7 linked regions of the Homo sapiens genome follow. The protein of the gene in region 4 purifies or fractionates together with the protein of the main gene of each other region. This does not show direct contact. Each region holds a gene or a part of one and is shown on either strand. Other genes may lie near its edges. The genes, in order: SCAMP2, TAMM41, CMTM4, SLC19A3, ABCB1, ATP11C and GOLGA5.

Evidence for each region.
Region 1: the proteins of SLC19A3 (region 4) and SCAMP2 purify together in Homo sapiens (affinity purification with mass spectrometry; one large-scale study listed by BioGRID and IntAct). This does not show direct contact.
Region 2: the proteins of SLC19A3 (region 4) and TAMM41 purify together in Homo sapiens (affinity purification with mass spectrometry; one large-scale study listed by BioGRID and IntAct). This does not show direct contact.
Region 3: the proteins of SLC19A3 (region 4) and CMTM4 purify together in Homo sapiens (affinity purification with mass spectrometry; one large-scale study listed by BioGRID and IntAct). This does not show direct contact.
Region 5: the proteins of SLC19A3 (region 4) and ABCB1 purify together in Homo sapiens (affinity purification with mass spectrometry; one large-scale study listed by BioGRID and IntAct). This does not show direct contact.
Region 6: the proteins of SLC19A3 (region 4) and ATP11C purify together in Homo sapiens (affinity purification with mass spectrometry; one large-scale study listed by BioGRID and IntAct). This does not show direct contact.
Region 7: the proteins of SLC19A3 (region 4) and GOLGA5 purify together in Homo sapiens (affinity purification with mass spectrometry; one large-scale study listed by BioGRID and IntAct). This does not show direct contact.

What each region holds. Positions count from the first base shown.
Region 1 is NC_000015.10:74,852,866-74,856,365, reverse strand, and holds part of SCAMP2 (secretory carrier-associated membrane protein 2), read left to right. Parts: intron 1-1,716; coding exon 1,717-1,785; intron 1,786-2,246; coding exon 2,247-2,345; intron 2,346-2,869; coding exon of another isoform or gene 2,870-2,998; intron 2,999-3,500. UniProt on the Homo sapiens protein: Functions in post-Golgi recycling pathways. Acts as a recycling carrier to the cell surface.
Region 2 is NC_000003.12:11,822,886-11,826,385, reverse strand, and holds part of TAMM41 (phosphatidate cytidylyltransferase, mitochondrial isoform a precursor), read left to right. Parts: intron 1-3,500. UniProt on the Homo sapiens protein: Catalyzes the conversion of phosphatidic acid (PA) to CDP-diacylglycerol (CDP-DAG), an essential intermediate in the synthesis of phosphatidylglycerol, cardiolipin and phosphatidylinositol.
Region 3 is NC_000016.10:66,630,744-66,634,243, reverse strand, and holds part of CMTM4 (CKLF-like MARVEL transmembrane domain-containing protein 4), read left to right. Parts: intron 1-3,500. UniProt on the Homo sapiens protein: Acts as a backup for CMTM6 to regulate plasma membrane expression of PD-L1/CD274, an immune inhibitory ligand critical for immune tolerance to self and antitumor immunity. May protect PD-L1/CD274 from being polyubiquitinated and targeted for degradation.
Region 4 is NC_000002.12:227,694,029-227,697,528, reverse strand, and holds part of SLC19A3 (thiamine transporter 2), read left to right. Parts: intron 1-1,447; coding exon 1,448-1,640; intron 1,641-3,500. UniProt on the Homo sapiens protein: Mediates high affinity thiamine uptake, probably via a proton anti-port mechanism. Has no folate transport activity. Mediates H(+)-dependent pyridoxine transport.
Region 5 is NC_000007.14:87,590,885-87,594,384, reverse strand, and holds part of ABCB1 (ATP-dependent translocase ABCB1), read left to right. Parts: intron 1-3,500. UniProt on the Homo sapiens protein: Translocates drugs and phospholipids across the membrane. Catalyzes the flop of phospholipids from the cytoplasmic to the exoplasmic leaflet of the apical membrane.
Region 6 is NC_000023.11:139,727,054-139,730,553, reverse strand, and holds part of ATP11C (phospholipid-transporting ATPase IG), read left to right. Parts: intron 1-1,591; coding exon of another isoform or gene 1,592-1,654; 3' UTR 1,655-3,500. UniProt on the Homo sapiens protein: Catalytic component of a P4-ATPase flippase complex which catalyzes the hydrolysis of ATP coupled to the transport of aminophospholipids, phosphatidylserines (PS) and phosphatidylethanolamines (PE), from the outer to the inner leaflet of the plasma membrane.
Region 7 is NC_000014.9:92,793,131-92,797,104, forward strand, and holds the start of GOLGA5 (golgin subfamily A member 5), read left to right. Parts: upstream 1-1,174; 5' UTR 1,175-1,326; exon of another isoform or gene 1,327-1,863; intron 1,864-3,974. UniProt on the Homo sapiens protein: Involved in maintaining Golgi structure. Stimulates the formation of Golgi stacks and ribbons. Involved in intra-Golgi retrograde transport.

The sequences.
Region 1 (3,500 bases), on a different chromosome or scaffold from region 4:
AAGGCGGAGGCTGCAGTGAGTGGAGATCATGCCACTGCACTTCAGCCTGGGTGACAGAGCGTGACTCTGTCTTAAAAAAAAAAAAAAAAAAAAAAAAAAAAGAACTGGCTCTGCAGAGGCTTCCAGTGGAGGTGAGGCTGGGCCTGAAGTTTGGGAGCATCTGGTTTAATAATTAGGGGTGTGGGGTGAGGTGTGGAACCCAAGCGGTGTCTCCACAGGCAGGAACAGCCCTGAATTTGGCCACCCTCAGGGCTGTTCCTCATGGAGCCCAGGCATGGCTGTGAAGCTGGACCTGAGCCCTGCATCTGTTACTAGGAAGGGGAGGGTGTGGAGGAGCTCTTCTTGGGGCAGGGCAGGGTGAAGACAACTGTTCCAGGCCAGCAGGGGCACAGTAAAGAGGATGGCAGAGCCCCATGCAGAGATCAGATGGGAAAGGGAGACAAGGTTGTGTTCTGAGGACATTCTTGGATTTTATGAAAAGACTTTAAAAAACCCCCGAAACCCAGAAACATTTTCTTGAATTTTCACCTCAGCTCATCATATCTCTGCTCTTAGCAAGTGTGCCCGATTTAATAAAATCAGTACTGGCAGCCAGCAGCATGTTTTTGTTCTAGAAACTTAGACTACTTTTTTTTTTTTTTTTTTTTTTGAGATGGAGTTTTGCTCTTGTTGCCCAGGCTGGAGAGCAATGGCACAATCTGGGCTCACTGCAACCTCTGCCTCCCGGGTTCAAGTGATTCTCCTGCCTCAGTCTCCGGAGTAGCTGGGATTACAGGCATGCGCCACCACACCTGGCTAATTTTATATTTTTAGTAGAGACGGGGTTTCTCCATGTTGGTCAGGCTGGTCTTGAGCTCCCGACCTCAGGTGATCCACCCGCCTCAGCCTCCCAAAGTGCTGGGATTACAGGCATGAGCTACTGCACCCGGCTACCTTAGACTGTCTTTTACAAAATAAGAGGAATGGCCAGGCATGGTGGCTCACGCCTGTAATCCCAGCACTTCGGGAGGCCGAGACAGGCAGATCACGAGGTCAAGAGATTGAGACCATCCTGGCCAACATGGTGAAACCCTGTCTCTACTAAAAATACAAAAATTAGCCGGGTATGGTGGCGGCCGCCTGTAGTCCCAGCTACTCAGGAGGCTGAGGCAGGAGAATCGCTTCAACCCAGGAGGCGAAGGTTGCAGTGAGCCAAGATTGCGCCACTGCACTCCAGCCTGGGTGACAGAGCAAGACTCTGTCTCGAAAAAATAAAAAAATATAAAAAAAGAGGAATAAATGAATAATAAGTAAAACAGTACAGAAAGGTTATAAAGTCAATAGTAAGTCTCTACCCTCACCACCCCATTCACTTGCCCCTCAGCACCCCACCCCTCAAAAAAAAAAAAAAACCCACTCCCTAGAGGTAAATACTATGAACCATTTTGAATCTGTATAGGGCACCAACAGGAGCCTGTGTGGTGTGTACTCTCAAGCTTCTGGGTAAAGCTTGCTCTGGGTCTCTTCTGGGCTGAACCTTTTCCAGGAAGGGGGAAGGGAGAAGGGACCGCAGCTGTGGTGTGGCAGAGGCAGGCACAGGACCCTTCCAGAGAGGCTTCTCAGGGTCCCGGGAGGGTGATCAGCTGCCCTGCTTCAGTCAGGCGTCACCGGCTCGCCTGCCGGCCCCTGGCCCGGATTTTCTCCACTGTGTCTAAGGGCTTTTTTTCACCTTCTCAGGATCCCTCTGTGACCCAGCTGACCAACGCCCCGCAGGGCGGCCTGGCGGAATTCAACCCCTTCTCAGAGGTTGGTGAGCAGGCCCTCTTTCCAAGTCCCATGGCCCTCTAGGGTGGTGCTGGGGTGTCCGGGGCAGGGATCCTTGGCAAGGACAGAAGCAGCTCTGAGAAGCGGCAGTCCTCAAAGGGACAGTCCTAACATGAACCCGGGAGGCAGGGTAAGGATGGCAAAGCCACCAAACGCTCTGTAAAATTCTCCCCTTGGGATCTGTGACCGGGGCCCCTCCCCAAGGAGGTCAGGGCAGTGCCCAAGTGTGCTGGACCCAGCGAGCCCAGGGGTGCCGGGTTAGGGATCAGATGGCCTGAACCTGAGGCTTGTTGGCTGGGAAGCCACAGGGGAAGGCCCAGTGCAGGCCCCGAGGGAGTCCCCTCACAGGCAGGGGCACATCACTCATCCTGCTGTGGGTTTGCCCCCTCGTCACCAGCTAATGGAGTCCCACTCAATTCTGTCTTTTGATTTGTTCCATGTAGACAAATGCAGCGACAACAGTTCCTGTCACCCAACTCCCTGGGTCCTCACAGCCAGCGGTTCTCCAGCCATCAGTGGAACCAACCCAGCCGACCCCCCAGGTAGTGCTGACAAAGAACTCTGGCCTTTTCTCTCCAGTGAGGGAATCATCCAGACCAGTAGCTGAGCCCTGAGGCTGGGGGCAAGCAGAGAGCTTTCAGCCTTGGCCCCCTAAGGGCCCTCTTGCTAATTTGTTCGGAGCTGGTCACCTACAAGTAGAGGGGCTGCTCTGCCAATTAATATCCTTACTCCCTCCATCCCACCCACCACCACCACTGAGAAATAAGCTCTACTCACCAGGCCGGGCTCCTCGGTGCCTCCAGAGAGGGCATTTGTCCCTGTTGTACCCCTCCAGGTCCTCCTCGGGCCTTTGGCTTGTTCTCTCTTCCTTGGGGCCCAGAATCTCTCTCTTTTTTTTAACTTCATTAATTCTCACCTTCCTTCCTGTCTTCCTTTGTCCCTTCACCAAATACTGTGAATCTTGCCTGCTTTGTGCCTGGTGCTCCACTGCGCCGCCTCACTGCCCTCCCGCTGCACCCCTCGCTGCCCCTATGAGCGTGACCCATGGTGGAGTTGTGTGTTGCAGCTCCTGCTTAGACAGGCCAGCAAGTTCCCGCCTGCCCAATTCCTGGCAGTGAGCGAGCTCTCAGAGAGGCAGATGCTCCTAGGAGGAGAAAGTATTCTCAGAGACAGCTACATGCGAAAGCTTCCGAAGGTAGGCCTAATGTAGATGAGCAGGAGGAAGGGCAGGGCACCCGGAGCCTGCCCCACACCCCTCCCAGGCCCCAGAGCCCTGTGGAGGTGAGGCAGGCCTTACATGCGGAGTTGCCTTTCTGTGCAGCTGGGTGGTGGGCTGTAGGGAGCTGGGTCCTTCTCAGCTGGCGTCACAGACTTGGAGGAGGTCAAGACCCCCAGCGTGGCACAGCGGGGTCAGTTCTGCTCCTGCTTCCGCCCCCAGTGCCTGAAACTTGGCTCTCCACGTCAGCCTTAGGTCTTTGAAGAGCTTTTGGAGAGGTTGGTGTGTGTATACATGTGTGTGTGTACACATGTGCCTGGTTTGTCATCCTGTGAAATGACCAGTTTGAGATCTCTCCCTAAAAAGGACTGTAGTCTCATCCTTCAGGAGGAACCTGGCCCAAATGGCAGCAGCTGCCAGCAGGTGCAGGGCCCCGGGGCCAGGTCTGTTCAGCCTCACATACAGTCAGTCCCTTACTGTT
Region 2 (3,500 bases), on a different chromosome or scaffold from region 4:
GGCTAATTTCGTTTGTGTAGCGACAGGGGCTCGCTGTGTGCTTCTGCTGGTCTCGAATTCCTGAGCTCAAACGATCCTCCCGCCTCGGCCTCCCCGAGTGCTGGGATTATAGGTGTGGGCCACTGCGCCTGGCTGCCTCCAGCATCTTATCTCATTAATAGTCAGTGTTCAGAAAATGATTGCTGTTATTATTATTTTTATGTATTATTGTTGGTCAGATGGGTTTTCCTCAGGTTGAGAAACTGTTATTTGCTCAATCATCCAGTGATTGATGGACACTTATATTAGCTCCATTTCTCACTGTTTTATTAGCAACACTGCTGTGAATCACTTTGTACAGATTACTTTCGTTGGGAAAGGGGCAAAGGAGGCACTGACTTCCTTGGATGTGTTCTCCAAAGTGGAATTATGTTGTCAGCTATAAAAATTATAAAACTTGTTACATATTGACAAACAATGCCTGTCAAAATTTGCAGGGTGCTGTGGCTCACACCTGTAATCCCAACTTCCAGGCTGCAGTGAACTATGATCACACCACTGCACTCCAGCCTGGGCAACAGAGCCAGACCCTGTTTCTTAAATTAAAAAAAAAAAAAATTAGCTGAGTACTTAGATCAGATGGATTGAAACATGACAGCCCCATTTCATCTGGCCGGTTAAGGTCCTCATGGAATGAAAAACACTTTCGGGCACTCTCCTATGAGAGAGAGAATGGGTTTCTTTAATTGCCAGATTGTCTGAACACAGCCTCAGCTACTTCTAGGAATAAGACGAAGCAGTGAGGAAGTTGCCAGTTGAGTGATTCTTGGGGAAAAAAATTAGCATTCAGTGCCAGCTCTCTAAAGTGTGGATTCTGGATTCTGGTAGAAGCCAGTAAAGAAACGTTTTCTCTGGAGTGGAAGCTAGTAAGATTTATTCTGTGGTGATGAAGCCATCTGAAACCTTACAAGCAGTGTGGTTGTATCAGCATATGGGAGCTGACTGCCTCAGGACTTTGGAAGCCTGCTTCTCTGTGCCTCAGCCGGAACTCAGGTTACTCAGTAGTCATTTGCTAATTTCTGAGAACGCAGCACTCCTGAAGGGATAGAAAGCATGAACAATACCCAAACTTTTTAGACTAGTACTGTGTGTCAGGTATTGTAACATTCATTCAGTCCCTGAAATGTACAAACTAGTTATTGCTCCCCTTTTTCATTTGAGGATACTGATGCCCAGATAAGTTAAGTGGCTTGCCCTGGGTCACATAGCTTGTAAATGCCGAGCTAGCATTTGAACCCAGGCAGTCTTCTTCCTGGAATGCTTGCTCTTAACACTTCACTGTTCTATGAAAGGTCTTTGGTGGTGGGCGTCACTCCTGGTTCACACTTAGGTCACTCCTTCCCCAGGACCCACTGGGTCACACCTCCCCTCCCCACACCCACCCCAGTGGGCCTCAGTTCTGGCTTATCATGGAGGCCTTCCCTGACTGCTACTGCAACTCCACCACTCCCTATGTCTTTCCCTGTTTGTGTTTTCCCCATAGCACTTTCCACAGTCGGCTACACTGTATCTTATTGTTGGTTGGCTGGCTGATCTTTGGTCTTTGTTCCACCACTGAGGATGTGGAGGGAAGGAATTGTTGTCTTGTTTTGCTCCTTCTGTTTGGATGCTTCCAATAGTATGTGACATGTACTAGGTGCTCAGTAAATATTTGATGAGTGGATTATACTGCTTCCTTCCTGAACCAATATAGTGAACCTGAGTCCTCCCTATTACTTCCTACTTTTGTATTTTCTAATGTATACAAAAGGAAGGCCAGGCATGGTGGCTTACGCCTGTAATCCCAGCACTTTGGGAGGTGGAGGCGGATGGATCACTCAAGGTCAGGAGTTCGAGACCAACCTGGCCAACATGATGAAACCCCATCTCTACTAAAAATACAGAAATTAGCCGGGCGGGCGAAGGTTGCAGTGAGCTGAGATGGTGCCACTGCACTCCAGCCTGACAACAGAGCGAGACTTTGTCACAAAAAAAAAAAAAAAAAAAAAATTAGCCAGGCATGGTGGCACACACCTGTAGTCCCAGCTACTAGGGAGGCTGAGGCAGGAGAATAGCTTGAACCCAGGAAGCAGAGGTTGCAGTGAGCTGAGATCATGCCACTGCACTCTAGCCTGGGTGACAGAGTGAGACTCTGTCTAAAAAAAAAATATTTACAAATCATGCATCTGATAAGGGACTAGTATCCAGAATATATAAAGAATTTTTAAAATACAATGGATAGGCCGGGCGCAGTGGCTCACGCCTGTAATCCCAACACTTTGGGAGGCCAAGGCTGGTAGATCACTTGAGGTCAGGGGTTCCAGACCAGTCTGGCCAACATGGTGAAACCCTGTCTCTATTGAAAATACAAAAAATTAGTTGGATGTGGTGGTGTGCACCTGTAATCCCAGTTACTTGGGAAGCTGAGGCAGGAGACTAGCTTGACCCCAGGATTCGGAGGTTGCAGTGAGCCGAGATCATGCCACTGCACTCCAGCCTGGCGACCGAGTAAGACTCTGTCTCAAAAAAAAAAAAAAAGCCGGGCATGGTGGTACACACCTGACCTGTAGTCCCAGCTACTAGGGAGGCTGAGGCAGGAGAACAGCTTGAACCCAGGAAGCAGAGGTTGCAGTGAGCTGAGATCATGCCACTGCACTCTAGCCTGGGTGACAGAGTGAGACTCTGTCTAAAAAAAAAAAAAAAAAAAGTAAAAAGGCAGCTAACAAAATGGAAGAAAATGTTTACAAATCATGCATCTGATAAGGGACTAGTATCCAGAATATATAAAGAATTTTTAAAACACAATGGAAAGGCCGGGCGCAGTGGCTCACGCCTGTAATCCCAACACTTTGGGAGGCCAAGGCTGGTGGATCACTTGAGGTCAGGGGTTCAAGACCAGTCTGGCCAACATGGTGAAACCCTGTCTCTACTGAAAATACAAAAAATTAGTTGGACGTGGTGGTGTGCACCTGTAATCCCAGTTACTTGGGAAGCTGAGGCAGGAGAATAGCTTGACCCCAGGAGGCGGAGGTTGCAGTGAGCCAAGATCATGCCACTGCACTCCAGCCTGGGCAACAGAGCAGGACTCTGTCTCAAAAAAAAAAAAAAAAAAACAACAACAACAACAAAACAATGAAAAGACAATCCAGTTTAAAAACAAGAGAAGGATTTGAATAGCCATTTCTTCAGAAAAGGTATTCAAATGGCCAGTAAGCACATGAAAAGTTGTTAAACATCATAGGTATTAGGGAAATGGAAACATCAATACAAATCACAGAGACGCCATTCTATACCTGCTACAATGGCTGTGATAAAAAAGAAAGGCAAGAACAAGTGTTGAGAATGTGGAGAAATTGGGACCCTCATACATTGCTGATTAGATTGTAAAGTGGTACAGCTGCTTTGGAAAAAAGCCTGGCAGTTCCTCCAAATGTTAAACATAGCTACCATATGACCCAGCAGTTCTACTCCTATATATCTAC
Region 3 (3,500 bases), on a different chromosome or scaffold from region 4:
GGTTTCAAACACCTGACCTCAGGTGATCCACCCACCTCAGCCTCCCAAAGTGCTGGGATTACAGGTGTGAGCCACCACACCCAGCCCAGAAATACCTATTTAGTGAGCTTTCTGGAATTCTGCTTTTTCTATTTTAATCATGAAAGATTTTCCACTTGTTGACTACCACACTACCATGTCACCGGTCATGTTGAGGTGCATCTCTCCCCAGGGAAGTTGATACTCGTTCTTTTCCTCTGGGTGGTGGTGGCCTGGGCCTGTGGTTGGGTGTTGGTGATGTGGTCACTTGAGAACACGATCCTGTTCTTTGGGATCCGTTCTAGACTTTCCACTCTTTTGGAGCAGATAAAGGCTGTGTGTTTGCCCAACAAAAGGGCATATACCTTACATGAACTTGAGGAGATGGTACCTTTTTTTTTTTTTTTTGAGATGGGGTCTTGCTCTGTCGCCCAGGCTGGAGTGCAGTGGTGCGATCTCGGCTCACTGCAACCTTTGCCTCCCGGGTTCAAGTGATTTTCCTGTCTCAGCCTCCTGAGTAGCTGGGATTACAGGCATGTGCCACCGTGCCCAGCTAATTTTTGTATTTTTAATAGAGACGAGGTTTCGCCACGTTGGCCAGACTGTTCTCCAACTCCTGATCTTAGGTGATCTGCCCACCTCAGCCTCCCAAAGTGCTGAGGTTACAGGCGTGAGCCACTGCACCCTGCCAAGATGGTATCTATTAAAGGCAGCTCATGTCCAGTGTTCTCTGAGAGGGGTGAAAAAGTGAGCTCCTCACGGCCGATCTCAGCTCATCAACTCGCTACAGAAGGGTTGGCCTTGGCTGTGTTGTGTTTCTGTAACAAGGTGGTGGGAGTATTGGGAGTATTTTTGTCTCCAGCAGAGCCAGCCTGATGGTTAAAATAGGGTGTGATTGGTATAGATTTAAAAACACAGGTCATTCCAGGAGCCCAGGTTGACATAAATATGGATGAGAAATGATAAATAAGGAGGACAGTGCATAATTTTCTACAAGCATAATTTGATGGAATTTGAATGATTCTGTTAATGTCAAGTTTTTGGTTTGGGTTTATTTTTGGATGGATTGTGGGACTTTGATATATATATATATTTATATATATATATTTATATATATATATATTTATATATATATATTTTGAAACGGAGTTTCGCTCTTGTTGCCCAGGCTGGAATGCAGTGGCACAATCTTGGCTCAACGCAACCTCCACCTCCCAGGTTCAAACGATTCTCCTGCCTCAGCCTCCCGAGTAGCTGGGATTACAGGCATGTGCCACCACACCCGGCTAATTTTTTTGTATTTTTAGTAGAGAGGGGGTTTCTCCATGTTGGTCAGACTGGTCTTGGACTCCCAACCTCAGGTGACCTGCCCGCCTCAGCCTCCCAAAGTGCTGGGATTACAGGCGTGACCCACCGTGCCTGGCGATATTTGTTTTTCTCTGTGTCCTAGGAGCTCATACACTCACATGTTCCACCCCTGTTTACTTTGATTAGTGCCACGGGGCTCCTCCTTTCCTCCCCTTCCCTTCTGGGATGTGGCGCTATCTAAAAGGCGTGTCTGATCCTCCCCCATCCCAAAAGCCTGCCAGTGGCTCCCACTCAACTGGCCCCAGAGCCCAGGGCCAGCTCAGCCCCACTTCCCAGAAGAGGAGGTCTGCACTTGCCTTCTCTACTTCCCCCTCTCCTAATCTCACTTTTCTAATCTCTTATTGTCAAATTCTGAAAAAATTATGAAAGTAAATATGGAGTTTAATATACAGCCACCACCTGGGTCAATAAATAGGAGATTGTCAACACCCCAAAAGCTTCCCATGTGTATTTTCCAGCTAAACACACCCCCTGCCCCTTCCCCCAGTCCACCATCCTGACTATGTGGTGGTCTTCCGCAATTCATCTTCAGCCCACTCCAGTCTGGCAGCATTGAAAGTCCCCTGGTCAGGAGCCTGGGACGGGGCCTCCGTGTTCCTAGATCCTCTGGTTGCTCTTGGGTTCTCACCCCACTCAACATCCTGGTGGTGTCTGCTATGGGGCACTCTGTCCTTCCTGCCATACTCTCTCACCTTGCATCCTGGGCCCCCACACTGTCCTGTTTTTCTTCTTCCGCTTTGGTCACCCTTTCTTAGTGGGCTCTGTGGCCCTGGAGGCCTCTTAGGCCTCTATCTCAGAACCCAGGCTGGGTGCTGTGGTGGGTTGAGAACAGTTGGCAGTTACCCACAGGGGCCACTGGCTGAGCCCTGAGCCCTAGGGCGTGACTCGTCTTGTGTTTTTTTATTTTATTTTATTTTATTTTATTTTTTTATTGATCATTCTTGGGTGTTTCTCGCAGAGGGGGATTTGGCAGGGTCATAGGACAATAGTGGAGGGAAGGTCAGCAGATACACAAGTGAACAAAGGTCTCTGGTTTTCCTACGCAGAGGACCCTGTGGCCTTCCGCAGTGTTTGTGTCCCTGGGTACTTGAGATTAGGGAGTGGTGATGACTCTTAAGGAGCATGTTGCCTTCAAGCATCTGTTTAACAAAGCACATCTTGCACCGCCCTTAATCCATTTAACCCTGAGTGGACACAGCACATGTTTCAGAGAGCACAGGGTTGGGGGTAAGGTCATAGATCAACAGGATCCCAAGGCAGAAGAATTTTTCTTAGTACAGAACAAAATGAAAAGTCTCCCAAGTCTACTTCTTTCTACACAGACACAGCAACCATCCGATTTCTCAGTCTTTTCCCCACCTTTCCCCCTTTTCTATTCCACAACACTGCCATTGTCATCATGGCCCGTTCTCAATGAGCTGTTGGGTACACCTCCCTGACGGGGTGGTGGCCGGGCAGAGGGGCTCCTCACTTCCCAGTAGGGGCGGCCGGGCAGAGGCGCCCCTCACCTCCCGGACGGGGCGGCTGGCCGGGCGGGGGCTGACCCCCCACCTCCCTCCCGGACCGGGCGGCTGGCCGGGCGGGGGGCTGACCCCCCACCTCCCTCCTGGACGGGGCGGCTGGCCGGGCGGGGGGCTGACCCCCCACCTCCCTCCCGGACAGGGCGGCTGGCCGGGCGGGGGCTGACCCCCACCTCCCTCCCGGACGGGGTGGCTGCCGGGCAGAGACGCTCCTCACTTCCCAGATGGGGTGGCTGCTGGGTGGAGGGGCTCCTCACTTCTCAGATGGGGTGGCCGCCGGGCGGAGGGGCTCCTCACTTCTCAGATGGGGCGGCCGCCGGGCGGAGGGTCTCCTCACTTCTCAGACGGGGCAGCTGGGCAGAGACGCTCCTCACCTCCCAGATGGGGTCGCGGCCAGGCAGAGGCGCTCCTCACATCCCAGACGGGGCGGCGGGGCAGAGGCGCTCCCCACATCTCAGACGATGGGCGGCCGGGCAGAGACGCTCCTCACTTCCTAGATGGGATGGCGGCCGGGCAGAGATGCTCCTCACTTTCCAGACTGGGCAGCCAGGCAGAGGGGCTCCTCACATCCCAGACGATGGGCGGCCGGGCAGA
Region 4 (3,500 bases):
ACACCAACAACTTTCAAAAGCAGCTTTCTCATGGTATTTAAATGAGGGCTGGAAGAGATGTGAAAGTCAGGATTTTAATATCAGAGGGAAATCTGTCTTTGAAGTTTAATCTACAATAAATGTTTATTTCCTAGTAACTGGAAGCTTAAATGTCAAATGAGACTTTGAAGATATTTTTTAGGAAGTGAGAATTCGCCCCACCCTCATTTACAAAAAGTTTTAGAAAACCCGTGTGACCTCTATTTTATTATTATCTCCCTTTTGGGAAGCTTCAGTTTAACTCCTGGAAACCAGGACTGTGCCAGAATTGCTTCACTGAAATTATTGCTCCTACATTCCAAATCCATGGGGGGAAAAATAGTTATTTTTTTTTTCCTCTGTGGTCATGATCACATGTGGGAAAGTTAGTCATATGTCAATGTAGTAATTTGAAATCTAAATACCTTTTGTTTATTTATTTATTTTAGACAGAGTCTTACTCTGTCACCCAGGCTGGATTGCAGTGGCATGATTTCAGCTCATTGCAAACTCTGCCTCCAGGGTTCAAGTGATTCTCCTGCCTCAGCCTCCTGAGTAGCTGGGATTGCAGGTGCCCGCCACCATGCTGGCTAATTTTTGTATTTTTAGTAGAGCTGGAGTTTCACCATGTTGGCCAGGCTGGTCTCTAACTCCTGACCTCAAGTGATCCACCCCCTTCAGCCTCCCAAAGTGCTGGGATTACAGGAGTGCGCCACTGTCCCCAGCCCTAAATACCTTTTACCTTTGTTAAAGAGAACCACACAAAAGTGCTAACCCTAATTACTGTCAATTATTTCAATTTCTTGAACTCTGTAAGTCTATATAGATATTTTCACCCAAAGCTTCTCAAGTAAATTATGTCAGATGTTGAAGACTTTAGAGTGGAGATTGGAAATAAGACTAAGATTACTAAAGGTTCATAATAAAGACTAAAACTGGGTAGGGCAAGAAAAAAGACTAAAACTTTCAATGTAACACATCTGATACTCATCACTGAAAAAGACTTACAGCAAAAACTGAGAAAAGAAAGGCAAATAGAGAGGCCAGTGTATTCCCAGAGAATTTATTTCATCCTTTTCCATCCCTGCATGTTGTACTGAGTGACTAGGTTAATGTATCATTTCTCCTTACACTGCTGTGGTTAGGAACCTTTCTGGCCCCTCTGCAGAATACAGTGTCTGGCGTGTAGTTGATGCTAATTAAAAGTATGGTGACTAAGTGACCGAAAGAATAGCAAGTGAAAAGAAAAGCCAAAAGAAGACACGCTTGAGAAAAGGATAGATCCACATTCAGGTCGATCACACAATTTTGTGAAAGCAATATATTTATCTTTCAGAATTACCCGAGACCTGGGTTTTTAAGAGAGGGTGTTGATATTTTCCTGCATGCAAAGTCATTATGTTTGATTGCCTTCAATGTTTTTTTTCAGGGGCTGTGGCTGCCTTTGCAGTGGGTTATGTGAAAGTCAACTGGGACCTTCTGGGAGAGCTGGCTCTGGTGGTCTTCTCAGTTGTCAATGCCGGTTCTTTATTTCTCATGCATTACACAGCCAATATCTGGGCGTGCTATGCTGGCTATTTGATATTCAAGTCCAGCTATATGCTTCTTATAACCATAGCAGTGTAAGTTTTACCAACCACTCCTAAAACTGAACTGTATTCCTCTCTCTTCTGTCTTTCTAAACTTTCTCTAAGAACTTCAGAAGGATTTTAGTCAATTGCAATATTAAATGTTGACTGCTTTATATTAAATTAGACACAACTAAGCCAACTTTTCATTTAACTATTTGCTCTCTGAATATTGCTACAATATACCTTAAGTCATCAAGGGAAAAAACTCTGTAGGTTTATAGACCAAAAGCAGTGATACATTGTCAGGTTTTTCTTTTTGTTTTATTTTGTTTGAGAGATGGCCTGGCTCTCTTGCCCAGGCTGGAGAGCAGTGGTGCGATCACGATCAGGACTCAATGCAGCCTTGACTTCCCAGGCTCAGGTGAGTCCCCAACCTCAACCTCCTGAGTAGCTGGGATGACAAGCATGTGCCACCATGCCTAGCTAATTTTTCGTATTTTGTAGAGATGGGGTTTCACCATGTTGCTCAGGCTGGTCCCAAACTCCTGGGCTCAAGCGATCCACCTGCCCTGGCTTCCCAAAGTGCTGGAATTACAGGTGTGAGCCACTACATCTGGCATCATTGTCAGGATTTGATTTGTTTATTTCCAGCAACTTTCTACATAAAGTGTGATGTGATCTGCTTTCAAATGGTTAGGTTTAGATTTCATTCCTACTTTCATTTGTTTGCTTGAGAAATTCTAAGCACATACTTTTATGACACAAAAGATTCTCAGGAAAGTTATTAAAAAGTTGGATACTAAAAAAAGTAGATGCAAAGATAACAAGAAACCTTTAGCTGCAGTCGTGTATGGAACCAAGCAGTTTTTCTTTTCTTTTGTTCTTTTTGAGACAGGGTCTCACCCAGGCAGGAGTGCAGTGGTGCAATCATAGCACACCACAATCTTGATCTCCTGGGCTCAAGCAGTCCTCCCACCTCAGCCTCCTGAGTAGCTGAAACTACTGGTGCACACCACCATGCCTGGCTAAATTTTTAATTTTCATTTTTGTAGAGACAGAGTGTCACTGTGTTCCCCAGGCTGGTCTCAAACTCCTGGGCTCAAGTAATCCTCTGGCCTCAGCTTCCCAAAGTGGTAGGATTACAGGTGTGAGCCACCACGCCAGATCTAGTTTTCAGTCATTTTCTAAAAATAATTTCTGGGATTTAGAATTTCCCGTCATTTTTGCTTCTACTTTTTTCTCAGAGATCTCTTTAAGAAAATGATTAAAAAACCATTCGGTTTCATATAAAAGTACAGCTAAAGCTGACTACAGAAAATATGCTTTGCTATTAACCAAAAAAAATGAGAAACATTTGAATTTCAAATTGCATGAAAGAAGTGGAGACAAAAGCTTCATCAAGTTTTGCTTTCAATTTGTGAAGAATGTTTTATAAACAATTTACAACACAGAAATATGAGCACTCTGGGAAAAAATCATCAAAGGAAAAAACAATTAGTTGGTATGTTTATTTTCTTCATGGAAATGTCTTAATTTAATCAGAATCATGTATCTTAGGTTGCTTTTTTTTAAATGTGAAGATTTTGTTAAAGTAGGATTATATCATTTCTTTGCATTAAAAAAAAATATTCACGGCTGGGCACAGTGGCTCCCGCCTGTAATCCCAGCACTTTGGGAGGCCAAAGCAGGTGGATCACCTGAGGTCAGGAGTTCGAGACCAGCCTGGCCAATATGATTAAACCCCGTATCTACTAAAAATACAAAAATTAGCTGGGCATGGTGGTGAGAACCTGTAATCCCTGCTACTGGGGAGGCTGAGGCAGGAGAATCCCTTGAACCTGGGAGGCAGAGGTTGCACATTCTCATCAGCATTTATTGCTTGTTTTTTGGATAAAAGCCATTCAAATTGAA
Region 5 (3,500 bases), on a different chromosome or scaffold from region 4:
GTAGTAATAGCACACATAAAGCACTGTGTGCCAAGCATTGTCCTAAGTATTTCATATTTAATCTCATTTAATCCTTACAACTCCTTTTGAGAAAGATACTATTATTATTCCAGTTTTACACATGAAGAAACTGGAGCCAGACATGTTCACTTGTCTGAGGATGTACAATGGGGCCAGGATAGAGAGAATATATTCTAAGTCTCTTGATGAAGTACTCTACTACTTAGATAGATTTTCCTCACATCTTTTTCCTGAAAAGTCAACATAGAAAACATTGAATGTAACTTCAATATAAAACTTATAAACACAAGAACATAATAAAAGTTTAACAATATATTGGTGATGTCACTGGCATTGCTTATTAATAATAGTTTTCAGTGAAGACAAAAAACATTGTGTGTTCAGGGTTTCCAAGAAGCCCAGCTTCAGTGATTCAGACTAGGAGGACCCAGAGGATTTATGGCTAATGTTTATTACAACAAAAGGATACAAGGCAAAATCAGCCATGGCAAAAGGCGAGTGGGGAGAAGTCCAGAAGAAACCAGGTGCAAGCTCCTAGAGTTCTCTCCTAATGGAGTCACAGGGCACACTGAATTTCCCCAAGCAATGAGTTAAGACAGCACTTGTAGAATGCTGTTTATCAGAGAAGCTCATTAGAGACTCAGTGCCCAAGGATTTTATTAGGAACTGATCATGTAGGCACCTACCCAGCATGCACCAAAATTTCAGACTCATAGAAGGAAGGCAGAACTGCAGAATGAAGAATCATATTGTTTGTACAGATAGTTTGGCCATACTTATCAGTTAGAATGGTGGTAATCCTCCCCAAATCCAAGTTCCAGCCAAGGGCCAACCTTTGTATACAGGCCTTTCTAAACATGGCAGCCTCAGAGCTGCTGTGTTAGCTCTTGTCTGCACACAATGTCTGTTAATTTATTTCCACTATGAGATTTTTTAGCAATCTTAAAAAAGTGATGAAAGAAGTAAGGAATAGATTCAAAATTCTATACTAGCCTTTTAAATTTATATCAGACCTTGTTTCAACATTTACAGAAACACAAAAGTAGAATAAAATCTAAAGCAAGTGAGGAAATGTGACACATAGAGCTGGGCTGTAATTTCTACACAAAATGAACTTCTTAGAGATTATACACTCTTGGTCAGGTGCTGTGGCTCACGCCTGTAATCCCAGAACTTTGGAAGGCTAAGGTGGGCAGATCACTAGAGCCCTGAAGTTCAAGACCAGCCTGGGCAACATGACAAAACCCTGTCTATGTGAAAAGTACAAAAATTAGCTGGGCATGGTGGCACATGCCTGTAGTCTCAGCTACTCGGGAGGCTGAGGTGGGAGGATCACTTGAACCCAGGAGGTGGAGATGCAGTGAGCCAAGATTGTGCTACTGCACTCTAGCCTGGGTGACAGAGTGAGACACTGTCTCAAAAAAAAAAAAAAAAAGATTATATATTCTTGCAAGAATTGTGCACTGTAGATTGAACTCTGAGCTTTCTATTATGTGTGTCTTAGGGAAACATTAATTTTTTTCTAAATAGATAATACCTAACAATGTTAAGTGTTTCCCTTGTACCAGGCATTTGTTAAATACCCTATGTTTATTGTGTGACATAATCTTCATATAGGGACATAAGTACCTGCAATTTAGGAACTTGTGTTATTCTTGTGTTCCAGATGAAGAACTTGACTTAGAGAAGTTAAGTAATGCATTCAAAATCACAGGGTCACATAGCTACTAAGCAGGGTAGACTCAGATATGCCCAGTTGCTTTTAACAACTGTAATCATTTATGACTGGTTAAACTGTTATCTCTCTGGAATTGAAGAGTTCTTTATTGCTGCTATCTTTTGATCTTATGACCATCTCATCATCAAAGACTACGCCACCTGGCTCAGTATCCTCCCTTTCCACTTTGGTGCTCCAACCAACTTGGGTGACTTTTATGGTTATATGGATAATCACTCCTTGAGCTTCACAGCTGCAATAATCATAAAAACCTACCTGTGTCTGAATCTGTTTCCTCCTCCTTCTTTCCAGTTATGACAGAGTTTTAGTCTTAAGACTAATCATTCATACTTTGGCTCCTATCTCCTCTGCCTTCTCAGGGACCTTACATCATTATTACCACTCATTCTCTTCTGTATCTTCCATCTTTCCCTCTCAACTGGATCTGTCCCATTGGCATTGACACATCAAGGCACTGATGCCCTTCATGGAGCCACCCCTGCCAGCTCCCTTCACACACAAAAGTGGCCTTTGCGTTCTGTCTTGATTTCGCCATTGACTTAGTTCTCAACCTATTGAAGTTTGGCTCCTGTTCCTGTCTCTCTCTACATTCAGTGGACATTTTAAAATTCTATCTTGATCTCTCAGCAGCACTTAGACTTTCTCCTATATTTTTTGTATTTGCTTCTGTTATGTCACGGTTTGCTGATTTTCCTCCAGCTCTTTGGCTTTTTCTTGTGCTGCCCTCGCCTGTAAAGTTAAGTTCCTCAACCCCTTATCACAGGAGTCAGAGATGATGTGGACATTCCTATAGTTCCACAAAGCCATTTTCAAATTTTTTTTATTCTCATGCAAACTCCTTTGTCATTTGAGTTTCATTCTGCATAATTATACTATCTTCTATCTATTTTCGGTGGTATCCTCGAAGTATACCCCCACCCCCATTCCTTGAGGACTTTGGCATTTGATTGCTTCTACTTCATTCACCTTATGTTCCTGTTATTCTTCTGAGTATTTTGGTGACCTTACAAATAAGTCTCAACATTCTCTGACTGCTTCAGTTCCAACAACGACGCTCCATAAATTACATGAGTACCTTAGTAAATTGCACGTGTGGACAGGATCTTGGGCTTATTGTCTGGGTGAGCTTTCCTCTATGAAGGTATAAACACACACACACGTGTATCAGTCTTTGACCACAACCTGTGATTCCTTCCAGCTCTGCCCTGCCTCTTTATCATCCCTCTTTTGACATTGTGTATTCATTTCCTATTGCTGCTGTAGGAAAATAGCACTCACTTAGTGGCTTAAAACAACACAAGTTTATTACCTTACTGTTCTGGAATCGAAGTTTTACTGGGCTAAAGTCAAGGTATCAGCAGGATTGCATTTCTTCTGGAGGCTCTGTTTCCTTCCCTTTTTCAGCTTCTAGAGGACACTTGCATTTCTAGACTCACAGGCCCTTCCTTGCATCACTCCAACCTCTTACTTCAATCATCACATCTCCTACTGACTCCAGGCCCCCTCCTCCCTCTTATAAGCACCCTTGTAATTACATTTGCTCTCCTAGATAATCCAGGGTAATCCCCTATCTGGAGATCTTTTAAATCTGCAAAGTCCCTTTTATCATGTAAAGAAATATATTCACAGGTTCCTGGGATTAGGATTTGGACAGGCTGTGGGGGGAGAATTATTCTGTCTACCACACCTGGTCAAGACTTTACTCTCTCAACTGCTCTTTCATCTCCTAGTATCCCTCCTT
Region 6 (3,500 bases), on a different chromosome or scaffold from region 4:
ATTGACTCCATTGGTTCTTCTGTCTTCCTGGAGTTCATCGCAGTCTACATCTGCACTGTTATTTTAGAAGCAGACTCATTTTGCCACAGTTAGCATCTTTTTACCCATTTTTGAACAACTTACCTGAGTATGTTTTCCCTTAGTAATGAATCTGCTTCACAAGTAACCTTCAAGGTCTTTGACCCCTTTGTCCCAGATTGCCTCGTTCTAAGCTGTGTGATGCATTTTAGCTATATTGTTTCTGGCTAATTTTGTATCCCCCTGGATTGCTCTCTTTAGCTTGGTCTGTGGTTTGGGGGACTGGGCTGGATAGAAGACACTGCTGTTGCTTTTGGCCTCTCCAGGGCCTTATCTCCTACAATGTCTAACATAGAACTGAGGAAGTATTTTTTAAAAACAATTGTCTTATTTTTAATGTAGTTATTTCTTCCAGGAATAGATTTTCATGTGGCATTATTTCTCCTCCAAAGACAATAATTAGCAGCTAGTTTAGGCATCTAGTTTGTTCCTTGGTTGGTAAGGAAACTACCTAACTCCTCAATGTGAGTTACATTCTCAGTATGAATGGCAACCTTATTTTGGTTAGAGTCACCATGACCCTGCAGAGCTACCTGAAAACCTACTAGTGGTTCTGGAGAATGTGGAACATAAATAGAAATGGAAGGTATTCTAATGAGCTTCTAGTCCAGCCATGGCAAAGGAGGTGTCCCAGAATGGGAAGAAAATAGCATACTACTTAAGACCTTCCACTACTCAGGTTCAAAAAGATTGAGTTTTAGAGTGGAGAATCAGGCTCCCTGTTTTGACATATGACTTCCATTTCTTAACATACTTGACTTACACTTAATGATCAGTTTGTCTGTCATGCACCATCCTGATCATAGCATTTGATGATGTTTAGAGGACAGAGAAGAATCTACAGATTTGATAGGGAAATATCCGTGGTTTCTCTTCCAAAAAGATGAAGCATAAGAAAAAACAGAAGAATCAATCGACTCATAGATACATGATCTACCAAAAGGAAAATTAACTTCCATATTGTAGGGGGGAAATATGCTTCTTTCAGTAAAAAGGAAGAATATTTTCACAATAATCTTCCAAAGCTGAATATATCTTCAGACTTCCTCTGTCAAAATTAACACATCAAGAAAAACAGCAATCTAATCATTCATCAAACATTTCCTGAGTATCTGCTGTGTGCCAGACACTATTACTAGCTGCTGGAGATAGAAGGTAAATAAAATGTTCCTGTTTTCAAGGACCTCCCAGCCTAGAGGAGAAGGGATCACAGCAAGCTAAACCTCTGCTATGGTAAATAATCCCAGAGGTAGAAAGTATTAGGAGAACCCTGGAACAATCCAAAAGCAAAAAGCAAGCCTGAATCTATTCAGCTGACAAATGAAGAAAGGATTAAAATCTGGTTATAGTGTCACTCTTTTTTTCCCCTGCATGTGAATAAAACTTGGCACTTTGTTAAGACAGTTGCTTTACTCTCATAACAAAATTTACTACTTATTTCTGAAAATGCTTAACAGATGGTTTCACATTATTAAAATAAGCCTTTTAAATCTGTATATTTTACATTTTTCAGAATCCGAATCTTGAACTGCCTATGTTATTGTCCTACAAGCATACTGACAGTGGTTACAGCTAAAAAAGAAAGCATGAAGAAACAACTACAAAAAGTTATCATCTCAGGATACTTGATACGCAACACACTAAACCACTCTCATGTCTAGAGTTCACAATAAATGTTCATTAAAATACCAAATGATTCTCTTAAGCATTTACCATTATTGTAAGTAGCCTTTATGGCCAAAGCTGTAAGTTAAGAATTATATGAAAGTTGAAAGCAAGAATACTTAGAATTCTGGCTTTAGTTAGAGTAATATAACTCAAATGGGTGCTCTTTTAACCCATGAACTTTGTGAATGGATTTAAATACAATAGTATGAAGTAGAAGTTATGCAATGAGAATGAATAGATTTTGCTAATACTACTTTTTTTGCCTGGCAGAAGAAATAGACTATTTGGATCACATTTCTCATTCCTCCTAAATGATCATCTTAATTTTTTTTCCCAAGTACATAAGGAATACTTGAAAATACAGAATAACTAAATAGTATCAATGCATCAGACAGAATAGTTAATCCCTTCTGTTTACCCATGTGCTACTAATGTCTTGGTAGAATATTCTTGCCAAAAAAATACCTTGAACGCTTATGTGGAAAGTGTTAACTTACGGGTATTTTTGTGGGAATAGAAAAAAATTGTTTATTTTTTATTCTTCTGAATTAAACCCCACTTATGGGTGTAAGCCTACTAGACTTGAAAATAAAGTATAAAACATTTCCAATCACTTAGTAGCCCCTCAAAGTAGTTAGAAAATAAACAGATTTTTCCAGTGTTGATTTTACTGGGATCTGCAGTAAGGTGGTTTAAACCATAGTTATATAAAAATAAAGGTCATTCTGAATATCAGCCTTTTATAATTTTATGTGAAGAGGAAGAAATATAGCTTATTTTAAACTTTTGACGGTTTTTATTTGAAAGAGATTGCATTTATGCATATATGCAGTGCTTTTTCTTAAACTTGGCCAATTTGGAAAGGGGGAAGGAGCCACCCCAAAACGGTGGTTCAGCTTGTAGAGCCATGACTCTGTGAAGATGAATGTTGTCTCTTAACTTGGACAGGGAAATGGTCTAACTCTAAACCATGTAACTGACCTTAGTAAAGTCCTTGACTAACTGAACTAGAAGGAAGGTTTAGCCTTCTAATTAGTTCACTTGAAACATAAATGTGAAATGTCTTCATTCAATGTTAAACACATACTTTTTTGGATATAAATGACCATATTTATTTGACTGCTAGTTTTTTTGTTTTTTTTTTGTCTTTCTGGCATGCCTGTACTATTATTAATGTTTATATTGTACCTTGATTTGGAAAAGTATTGGAGTTAATCTGTATTATATTTATATAGTCCATATGGCACATTTGATTCTTCCACATATATTTTGTGTTAATGTTTAGGTATGATTTTTTTCTAAATTCTAGAAAAGAACATAATTTCAGTTATCAGAAGCCATTCCATCATTATAGACCCTTTTTCATTATTTCATTTGCTCTCATATATCAGTATTATTTTTGAGCATTTTGTTACATGTCATTCACAACTTACCTAAGTGTGCTGTGTTCTGGTAGCCCGTATTTGAGGTAAGCTGCTGAAAACAAAAGTCTCTATATTCTTTGCCTATTCCAAAGAGCTAAAAAAGTCTAACCCAGGAAAGCTTTTGATATTTTGTGTTTGTTTTCTTGTTCTTATGGTTGTTGTTGCTGTATTATGATTGCTGTTTTACATAAAATCTATGGGAACTGTGAATACAGACAAGAGAGCCACAGTAGAGAGGCTTGTTTAATGCAGTACCATTGGAGAGTTAACAGAATAATCTAGTAGAAAAATAACTGGTTGCATGTAAAATTCCTTCCAGCCAGAAAGAAA
Region 7 (3,974 bases), on a different chromosome or scaffold from region 4:
AGGAACAACAATACCACCTACCAGAGAATAATAGTACCTTCCTTATGCATGTGAGATTAAAATGAAGTGAGGCACATGCAATGCTTAACACAGTATTCTACACTTAATAAAAGGTTTGATAAATGTTAGATGCCATTATTATGATTACCACCTCCTGGTGCTGCTGAAAATTTTTCTCTTCACCGTACTGGGCTAAACCTCACCTGAGAGCAATAAAAGCAGGAGCTGTAATTACTTCCAATATTTAATTTGGAGACAATAAAGCTTTGAGTCTACGAGGAATAGGCTTTGGAGTAATGTGGACTCCTTATTAGGACAGATGATCTTAGACAAGTTATTTAAACTGTTTGAACCTTACTTTCCTCAATTCAAAGATTTGAGACTTGGAACTGTGTTGTAGGCTTGTCATTAGGGCCAAGTTAGCCCAATCCTGTACACATAGTGGGTGCTGAGTATTTGAATTAGTGAATGTGGATTTTAGACTTATTTCAGATAGTCAATGAACTGTATGCATAACATAACCACAATACTGCCTTTTCCATCCTTTGGGTCTCAGCTCAAATATCATCTTCTCAGAGAGACCTTCCCTGACCACCTGATTTAAAGTACCTCCCGTGCCTCCAGTCACTTTTCCCCGTTTTCTTGTCGTTACAACTCTGGTAACGCCCTGAAATTGTCTTGTCCATTCACTGTTACGTAATATCTGTCTCTGCCACTAGAAAGTAAGCGCCATGCAATCCGGATCATGTTTTCTTATTTCCACCTTCTGCCGTGGACCTCTGGCATTCTCGTCTGTAAAACTTAGGGGAGATGGTGAGGAAAGGGAGAAACACGAGGTCTAGCCGGTCCACCCGGGTCTCAAGCCCCGCCCAACTCAGGCCTCGCGTTCCTTCCAGGCTGGGCACCGCCTTTGGTCACCCACGTGGCCCGCAGTAAGGCCCCGCCCTTTGTGGGTGTGGCCTTTCACGGCGTGCGGGCCGTCCACCGGCGGCGAGCCACGTCACACGCACGCAGGCCATGCGCCGCGCCTGTTCTCGCCGCGGGCGGAAAAGGGGCGTGGCCATGCGCGAGGACCCCGTAGCCGCCAGCGCCACCGCCTGAGTCGCCTGCAGGTGGCTGTTCGCGTCTCCCTGCCGTGCAGGCAGCTCGAAAGCCACTCTGTTGTGGGGTCCTCGCTTCCCTTCCACGTCTCCCGGAAGCGGTAGCAGGGCCCCGGCGGGTCGGGGAGGAGGTTTACTCAGCTTGGGCCCCCTCCGGGCCAGCCGCCGAGGGGGCGCGGCCCAGGACGGCGGCTAGGCCGTAGTGCAGCCTCTCCGGAGTCCTCAGGTGAGGCGGAGGCGAGGGCCCACTGGACGAGACGGGGGTGTTAACGGTCCTAGGAGCGGGGGCGCAGTCCCTTCAGTGGAGACCCTGGTCTCTCCGTTTTCTTTCGGGTCGCGCTCATCTTCGCCCTGTTAGGGGCTGAGGAGGGTAACTGGAGAGACTCCTTGGGCTTCAGCCGACGTCGTTTACTGCCCTCCTCTGTCTTCCTTTCTCCTGACCCCTGCCTGGCCTGGCCGTTCTTCCCGCACGGAACGAGATGGGTGGGGAGCAGAGTGGGGGTCTCTGCTCGCTTACCTGAGATTCCCCAAACTGACAGACCCCAGGGCTCTACGGACTGGGCCTGACCGACTGACCTCCAGCCTCCCTCCCTCTGTGCTGACGCCTGGCCTTCGAAGCAGGCCCTGCCGCAGCCCTTTGCAGACCCATCCCCATCCCACGCACTCTCTGCCCCTGGGCAGTGTCTGGGGAATTGACGGGTGCCTCTGAAGTCCTTCGTGTCTTTGAGATGTTTGCCCAGGGCCCATCTAAGTATTTAATTAGGTAATCGACATTAATTGCAACATTAGTAGCAGTTGCATGGTATGTTTTAAAGCCCAATTAATTTTGAAATGGGAGGCAAGATATAAAGAATTAATGAGCGTGTTTTGATTTTTTATTACTTTTTTTGTAGAGACAGGGTCTTGCCATGTTGCCCAGGCTGGTCTCAAACTCCTGGCCTCAAGTGGTCCTCCCCGCTCGGCCTCCCAGTGTGTTGGGATTACAGGCGTGAGCCACAGTGCCTGGCCTGTATGGTGTTCTGTATGTTACAGAGCATTTCATCTCCATTTTCATTTGATTTTTTATAAACTCCGAAATACATAGGCATTTAATAGTCACATGTGTAAAGAACAGATTTAAAGGATGAGTTTCTTCTTGAGGTTTTTTAGATTTTGAGCTGTATGGTATAGGGAGGCAAGGGTTAAAAGTAGGTTTGGCACTAGGGTAACTTAGACTTGAGTATCTGAGCTGCTGTCTAAACTCTGGGATCTTTCTAAACCCTTTCCACATTTGCTTTAAAAAAAGGATATTGCTGTTTACCACATAACGTGGCTGTGAAAATTACATGTGATAAAAGATACATGTGTACCTGTGTACAGCATCAGTCATATAAAAATTCCACTCAGCAGTATTTGTGAGTGCCTACTGTGTGCTAGACTCTGGGAATTCATTGGTGAGCAAAACAGACATAATCTTTATCCAGCCACTGCCCCACTTTCCCCAAGAACAAGAAGCATGTTAAAAAAATACGTAATTATAAAACATGAAGGACTGTGAAGCAAAAGAATAGGGTATGTACAGATAATGATTGACCTAACTTAGCTGGAAAGGAGAACTCTGAAGCAAATGACATTTGAGTGAAGACCAAGAACAAGAAAGTTAACCATGAAAGAGTTCTTGGCAAAAGGAACAACGTGCACATTCTAGAAATGGTTGTGGACTTTATTATAGAGCCCTTCTGTATCTATATCTTCATCATTACTTTGATGTATTGTGGCACACAATAAGTACTCAAATATATGTATGGAATGAGTGGTTATGCAATTTTGGTTTTTATTCTGGACTTAGCTTAATGTGCACATGGTAGGTATTGAGTATGTGAATTATTGAACATGTACTTTAGATAAATTATGTGCACACCTAAATTATATGTAATAGTGCTGCAGTTTAACATTAAGATAGCTTTTGTATTTAACGGAAACGTTTTTTCAAGTTTTAGCACTTTAAAACAAACTTCAGTGAATTTTATTTTTATTTGGTTGTACTGGAGTTTTGCCATATTGGTTATTTGCTGTTTGGATGTTGTTTTAATTTGCTGCTGTAGCAAAGTACCACAGATTGATTGGCTGGGCCAACAGAAATTTATTTTCTCTCAGTTCTGAAGACTTGAAGTCCAAGATCAAGGTATTGGCAGAGTTGGTTTCTTCTGAGGCGTACTTCTTTTGCTTGCAGATGTCTGCCTTCTCCCTCTGTCCTTTCTGTATGCCTGTTTGTGTTGAAATTTCCTCCTCTTAGAAGGACATGCCAATTATATTTGATTAGGGGCCACCCTGACGACTCATTTTAATTATCCTTTTAGAGATCCTATCTCCAAAAACAGTCACATTCTGAGGTCTGGGGGTTAGGACTTAAATAAAGGAATTTGGAGGGATGCAGTTCAGCCCATAACAGATGCTTTTGCTACATTAAGATTTGCCCGGCCGGGCGCGGTGGCTCACGCCTGTAATCCCCGCACTTTGGGAGGCCGAGGCGGGTGGATCATGAGGTCAGGAGATCGAGACCATCCCGGCTAACAAGGTGAAACCCCGTCTCTACTAGAAATACAAAAAATTAGCCGGGCGCGGTGGCGGGTGCCTGTAGTCCCAGCTACTCGGGAGGCTGAGGCAGGAGAGTGGCGTGAACCCGGGAAGCGGAGCTTGCAGTGAGCCGAGATTGCGCCACTGCAGTCCGCAGTCCGGCCTGGGCGACAGAGCGAGACTCCGTCTCAAAAAAAAAAAAAAAAAAAAAAGATTTGCCCTTCTTTGAAATAGTAATAATAAAAACAGTAATTTATTATTACTTTGAAATAGTAATAATAAATAATAAAAATAGAAATAATAATAAAAACAGTAGTG